Linked DNA regions of Homo sapiens. The protein of the gene in region 2 interacts with the protein of the main gene of each other region in a pairwise test. Each region holds a gene or a part of one and is shown on either strand. Other genes may lie near its edges.

What was found.
Region 1: the proteins of NAP1L2 (region 2) and FAM81A interact in binary tests that used the Homo sapiens proteins (3 or more experiments, as listed by UniProt).

The regions. Positions count from the first base shown.
Region 1 is NC_000015.10:59,518,038-59,521,790, forward strand, and holds part of FAM81A (protein FAM81A), read left to right. Parts: intron 1-3,216; coding exon 3,217-3,341; 3' UTR 3,342-3,753.
Region 2 is NC_000023.11:73,213,224-73,216,976, reverse strand, and holds the start of NAP1L2 (nucleosome assembly protein 1-like 2), read left to right. Parts: upstream 1-2,125; 5' UTR 2,126-2,484; coding exon 2,485-3,753. UniProt on the Homo sapiens protein: Acidic protein which may be involved in interactions with other proteins or DNA.

The DNA.
Region 1 (3,753 bases), on a different chromosome or scaffold from region 2:
TCTTGGCTCACTGCAACCTCTGCCTTCAGGGTACAAGCGATTCTCCTGCCTCAGCCTCCTGAGTAGCTGGGATTACAGGCGCCTGACATCACGGCCGGCTAATTTTTTTTTTTTTTTTTTAATAGAAACAAGGTTTCACCATGTTGGCCAGGCTAGTCTTGAACCCCCAACCTCAAATGATCCTCCCGCCTCGGCCTGCTGAAGTGCTGGGATTACAGGCAAGAGCCACCAGGCCTAGCCTCATGATGCCTTTTTACCCCTTTATTATTTCCATTTTTTTGGAAATTAAAAAAAATGACAGAATGAGACAGAGGCTCACTCTGTTGCCTAGGCCGGGGTGAAGTGGTGTGATCGTAGCTCACTACAGCCTCCTGGGCTCAGGTGAGCCCCCTGCCTCGACCTCCTGAGCAGCTAGGACTATGGGCATGTGCCACCATGCCCAGCTCATTTTTTTATTTAAAAAATTTTTTTAGAGATGGGTCCTCAGTATGTTGCCCAGACTGGTCTGGAACTCCTGGCCTCAAGCAGTCCTCTTGCCTTGACCTGCCAAAGCTCTGGAATTACAGGTGTGAGCCGCTGCCTGGTTGCCCTTTTATTATTTCAGTGTATATATCCTAAGAACAAGGATATTCTCTTATAAATAACTTTAATACAATGTATCATCAATGAAATATTTTTTAATATTCAATTTTCAACGTGCCATTATTTCCTTTATAGCAACCCTTTTCCAGTCTAGTGTCTTTTTTTTTCTAATTACATGTTTTTTAAATAAAAAAAATTGTTGTGTATATTTAAGGTATACAACAAGATGTTTATATTTTGATATATATATACATAGTGAAATAGTTACTGTATTCAAGCAGGTTAACATATGTATCATCTCACAGGTATTTGTGTGTGTGTGTCTGTGTGTGTGTGTGTGTGTGTGTGTGTGTGTGTGGCAAGAACACCTGAAAATGTACTCTTTTAGCAAAAATCCCAAATACAATACAATATTATTGACTGCAGTCCTCATGCTATACATTAGACATCTGGTCTTGTTCATTCTCCATATCAGCAATTTGTATCTTTTGACCTGCATCTCCCCATTTCCTCCTCTTCCGCCCCACCTTTGGCAACCACCATTTTATTCTCTATGTTTTTGACTTTCTTTCTTTTCTTTTTTTTTTTAGACAGAGTCTTGCTCTGTCGCCCAGGCTGGAGTGCAGTGGTGCAGTCTCGGCTGACTGCGACCTATTCTTCGCAAGTTCAAGTGATTCTCATACCTCAGCCCCGCGGGTAGCTGGGATTGTAGATGTGCACCACCAGGCCCAGCTAATTTTTGTATTTTTAGTAGAGATGGAGTTTCATGGTGTTGGCCAGGCTGGTCTCAAACTACTGACCTCAAGTAATCCACCCGCCTCGGCCTGCCTTCCTCCCTCCCTCCCTCCCTCCTTTCCTTCCTTCCTTCCTTCCTCCCTCCTTCTCTCTTTCTCTCTTTCTTTCCTTTCTTTCTCTTTCTTTTCTTTCTTCCTTTCTTTCCTTTCCCTTCCCTTCCCTTCCCTTCCTTTCCCTTCCCCTCCCCTCCCCTTCCCTTCTTCCTTCCTTTTCTTTTTTTAGATTCCACATATGAGATCGTGCAGTATTTTTCTTTCTGTATCTGTCTTATTTCACTTAGCATAATGTCCTCCATTTTTATCCATTTGTGACAAATGGCAGGCTCTCCTTTTTTGTAAAGCTGAATAATATTCATCATTTGTATATATACACAATTTCTTTATTCACTAATTTTTTGATGGACACACTTCAGTTGTTTCCATATCTTGGCTATTGTAAATAATGGTGCAGTGAACAGGGGAGTGCAGATATCTTTATGAGGCAGTAATTTAATTTCTTTTGGGAATATACCCAGTAGTGAGATTGCTGGGTCGTATGGTAGTTCTATTTTAAATTTCTTTAGTAACCTCTATACCAAGCTTGTCCAACCCACATCCCGCAGGCCACATGCGACCCAGGATGGCTTTGAATGCAGCCTAACCCAAATTCGTAAACTTTCTTAAAACATTATGAGATTTTTTTGTGATTTTTTTTTTTAAATCACTCATCAGCTATCATTAGTGTTAGTGTATTTGTATTGCCCAAGACAATTCTTTCAGTGTGGCCCAAGGAAGCTGAAAGTTTGGATACCCCTGCCCTATACTGTTTTCCACTATGGCTGCCCCATCCTGCATTCCCACCAACAGTGTACAAGTGTTCCCCTTTCTTCACACCCTCGCTAATGCTTGTACTCGTTTGTCTTTTTGATAATAGCCATCCTAACAGGTGTGAGGTGATAACTCATTGTGGTTTTAATTTGTATTTTTCCTATAATTAGTGATGTTGGCCCTTCAGGTTCTAATCCAGAATTACACATCGTATTTAGTTGTCATGTTTCTTTATTTAGTCTCTATTAATCTGGATCAGTTTCTCAGTGATGTTGACCTTTTTAAAGAATACCAGCCAGCCAGCATTTTGTAGACTATCCCTAGTTTAGATTTGTTTGCTTCATTTTTTTTTTTTTTTTTTTGAGACGAGTCTTGCTCTGTCGCCGAGGCTGGAGTGCAGTAGCACAATCTCAGCTCACTGCAACGTCCGCTTCCTGGGTTCAAGCAATTCTCCCTGCCTCAGCCTCCCGAGTAGCTGGGACTACAGGTGTGCGCCACCATACCCAGCTAATTTTTGTATTTTTAGTAGAGACAGGGTTTCGCCGTGTTGGCCAGGCTGGCTCGAACTCCTGACCTCAGGTGATCCATCCGCCTTGGCCTCCCAAAGTGCTGGGATTACTGGCATGAGCCACCGTACCAGGCCTGTTTGCTTCATCTTGATATAATTTAGGTTGTGTATTTTGGTATTCTTTAAAAATGTCAAGAAGTGATGTTGTGCCCTGCTCAGGGTATCTTTTCAGAAGTTACGTGATGTTGTTTCTCCCAGTATGGGTGACGTGAGATTTGATCACTTGGTTAAAGGGGTATATGACAGTCTTCTCCATTGTAATAGTTCCTTTTTCCTTTTTGTAATTAAAAAGTAATCTCTAGGGAGAAACTAGAAACTCACCTGTTCCCCATCATACTTTCATCCCAGAGGTTTTAGCATCTATTAATAATTTTTGCCTGAATCAACCATTACTAGATACTATAGAATTTGATACAGCATTTTAAAAAAATTGTTAACTGTTGTGAAATTTACCTCTCCTTCAAGGGTTTACAGCCGTCTATGAAAGCATAGGATCCCTCAGGCAAGTTCTCGAGGCCAAGATGAAGCTGGACAGGGACCAGCTACAGAAGCAAATCCAGCTGATGCAGAAGCCAGAGACCCCCATGTGAAGGGAGCTGGGACAAGGTCCTAAAAGACAGTTTTGCCAGTGGGGCTAGGAGCCGGATACCTCTGTAGCCAGGCCATCGCTGCATTCAGGATTGTTCCATCCATGGCGTGCATGTGCCAAGAAATGTGTTTTTATGGGTCTAAATGTTTACCTTGAGTCTTGAAAATACTCTTTTGTTAAAAGTATGAAATACAGTTTTTACCAGTTTATTTCACTTCTCTAAATTCAATGGAAATCCCCCGCCCTGGATTTTGAAAGGCTTTTATCTTCTTCATTTTACGAATGGAAAGACGACAATTTTTCTTCAATGCTTGATGCACTAATGAAGACTGTTTACTATTTTGAAAAATGTCATGGGGATTTTTTTTTAATTAAGAAACTAATGAATCATCACAGGAATGTGTTGCTCCTCA
Region 2 (3,753 bases):
CAGCTTTGTAGTACATTTTGTCATCAGGCAGTGTGATGCCTCCAGCTTTGTCCTTTTTGCTCAGGATCATTTTGGCTATTTGGGATCTTTTGTAGTTTCATAAAAGTTTTAGGATATTGTTTTCTGTTTCTGTGAAGAATGTCATTGGTATTTTGATAGAGATTGCATTGAATATGTAGATTTCTTTGGGTAGTATAAACATTTTAACAATATTGATTCTTCTAATCCATAAGCATAGGATATCTTTCCATTTTGGGGTTCTCTTCATCTCTTTCATTAGTGTTTTTATAGTTTTTATTGCGTAGATCTTTCACTTCTTTGGTTAAATTTATTCCTAGATGTATTATTTTCTTGTAGCTATTGTAAATGGGATTGTTTTCTTGATTTTTTCAAATTGTCTGCTGCTGGTGTACAGAAATGCTACTAATTTATGTGTGTTGATTTTGCTTCATGCAAACTTACTTAATTTGTTAGTTCTAACAGTTTTTTTGTGGAGTCTTTAGGTTTTTCTAAATATAAGATCATGTCTTCTTTGAACAAGGATATAAATTAGCAACTTCCTTTCCAATATGTATGTCCTTTATTTTTTTCTCTTGCAAAATTGCTCTGGGTAGGACTTCCAGTACTATATTGAATATGGTCTTTAAAATATTTTTCTCTACACTTTATATTATGATAAAATATACATAACATAATATTTACCATTTTACCTATTTTTAAATCTACATTTCAGGAGCATTAAGTACAATCACACTGCTGTGAACCATCATCACCATACATCTCCAGAATATTTTCTTTTTCTTGAACTGAAACTCCATACACATTGAACAATAACTTCCTTTCCTCCCTACCCCAAGCCTCTGAAAACCATGTTTCTACTTTCTGTCTCTGTGAATTTGACTGCTCTAGATACCTAATTAAAGTAGAATCATACAATATTTGTTCTTTTGTATCTGGTATTTTCACTTAAAGGAAAAATTTATCTATAAACTGACAGAATTTAGAAATAAATACAACAATATGTAAACAGTTTTAATATCTGTGATAGTAACAAATTCTTTAAATCTGGAAAATAATAGTCACTTAAAATTTTAAAAAATTGTTCAATTAATAAATGATCCAAGTTAGAAATATGAACAAAATAAACCTCACCAATAATTACTATAGAGAGGAAATTTTAATTACTGCAAAGCTTTCCATCCTATAAATACATTATCAAATAGTTTAACCATTTCTTTAATGCTGAGATTTAGATTATTTCCAATTAACTCAAAAGCATCAAGCAAATGTTATGATTTCTAAGAATAAACATAACTTTCCATTTTGGCTTTTGTATATATGTATATTTCTAACGGCTGTTAAAGCCAGCATTAAGAAGGAGAAGCAGAAAGTCAGTATTGGGACTGGGGTTATTTATAAGCCAGGCAACTGGTTAATTGTGGTTAATTGTCTGGTATGTTTACTAGTCACGTAGTTGTATACACCATACTAGTTTTTCATCACAGGCCCTCATTCGCCCCCACTGCCATCGGACTTCCTCCTCCTCCCCTCACAGGAAATGTTTCGAGAATTTTTCAACCTAAAATCATATAGCTTGTGAAAAATACCGACAAACATAATATAGAATATTTAAATAACTGACACGCCACCTAAAGACCATCAGTGCTAATTCCTGGTGTTTTTAATCTTTGAAGCGTTTGTTTATCAGCTCTTCCACCATCCACCTCTCCCCTCCCCAGGTCCCCGATCTAAAATCAAAGAGATTGATTTAGGATGGGTGGGTGCCTTGTCTTCTCTCATTGTTCGACATTTTAGTTACGTTTTCTCTGAGCTCTCTGGAAAGCATAAAAGTATAATATCTGTTAAAAGTTGGATGAATGAACTAATGAACGCAATGGGATTCCAGAAAACTCTGCGGGAGATGGGCTAGAGGACGAGGAGGAGGTGGATGAATCAGCCATGTTAGAGAGCCTGGGAAGGTGAGCAGAGTTGAAAACTTGATAGATCTAATAATTTACTGGCTCTGGGTTTGTCAGTCACTACATTGCAGCAAATGAGATTAGAGCATAGTTGTGGGAGGGAAGGAGGTGACGCAGCAATCTATTTGCACCTAGAAATTTTAGGCAAGTGATAGCTGCGTAATCATACTGCGGCACCGTTTTTTTCTTGCAGCAGTAGCTGCTTGCGGAGGAGGTCTGCCCACTGCAGCTCTCTGCAGTCTCCGGCTCTCTCCTGCAGGATCGGTCAACGCAGCCGTCGCCGCCCTCTGCACCCAGCCCAGGTCGCCACTGCTTCAGTCCGGTTCTCAAAGCCTCAGCACCATCTTTTATCCCCGAGCAGCCTGGATCGTCGTTCCCTCAGTCCGGACGCCACTGCTAGGTCCGACCACCGCCGCTTCTGATATTTCGGTGAGTCTTTTCCTGTGGAGGTTTGGTCTCCCGATCTCTGTGGTAGCCACCTTAGGCGTGTACGGTCCTTTGAAAAATGGCCGAGTCAGAGAACCGCAAGGAGCTGTCAGAATCCAGTCAAGAAGAGGCTGGTAATCAGATAATGGTGGAAGGGCTCGGGGAACATCTGGAGCGCGGTGAAGATGCCGCTGCTGGGCTTGGAGACGATGGGAAGTGCGGTGAAGAAGCTGCCGCTGGGCTTGGGGAAGAAGGGGAAAACGGTGAAGATACTGCTGCTGGGTCCGGGGAAGATGGGAAAAAAGGTGGCGATACTGATGAGGACTCAGAGGCAGACCGTCCAAAAGGACTTATCGGTTATGTTTTAGATACAGACTTTGTTGAAAGTCTACCTGTGAAAGTTAAGTACCGTGTGTTAGCCCTTAAAAAGCTTCAAACTAGAGCGGCCAATTTAGAATCCAAATTCCTGAGGGAATTTCATGACATTGAAAGAAAGTTTGCTGAAATGTACCAACCCTTACTGGAAAAAAGACGTCAGATCATCAATGCAATCTATGAACCTACAGAAGAGGAATGTGAATATAAATCAGACTCTGAGGACTGTGATGATGAGGAAATGTGTCATGAAGAGATGTATGGTAATGAGGAGGGTATGGTACATGAATATGTGGATGAGGACGATGGTTATGAGGACTATTATTATGATTATGCTGTGGAAGAGGAGGAGGAGGAGGAGGAGGAGGACGACATTGAGGCTACTGGAGAAGAGAATAAAGAAGAGGAGGATCCTAAGGGAATTCCTGATTTTTGGCTAACTGTTTTAAAAAACGTTGATACACTCACTCCTTTGATTAAGAAATATGATGAGCCTATTCTGAAGCTCCTGACAGATATTAAAGTTAAGCTTTCAGATCCTGGCGAGCCCCTCAGTTTCACACTAGAATTTCACTTCAAACCCAATGAATATTTCAAAAATGAGTTGTTGACAAAGACCTATGTGCTGAAGTCAAAGCTAGCATATTATGATCCCCATCCCTATAGGGGAACTGCGATTGAGTATTCCACAGGCTGTGAGATAGATTGGAATGAAGGAAAGAATGTCACTTTGAAAACCATCAAGAAGAAACAGAAACATCGGATCTGGGGAACAATCCGAACTGTAACTGAAGATTTTCCCAAGGATTCATTTTTCAATTTTTTCTCTCCTCATGGAATCACCTCAAATGGAAGGGATGGAAATGATGATTTTTTACTTGGTCACAATTTACGTACTTACATAATTCCAAGATCAGTATTATTTTTCTCAGGTGATGCACTGGAATCTCAGCAGGAGGGGGTAGTTAGAGAA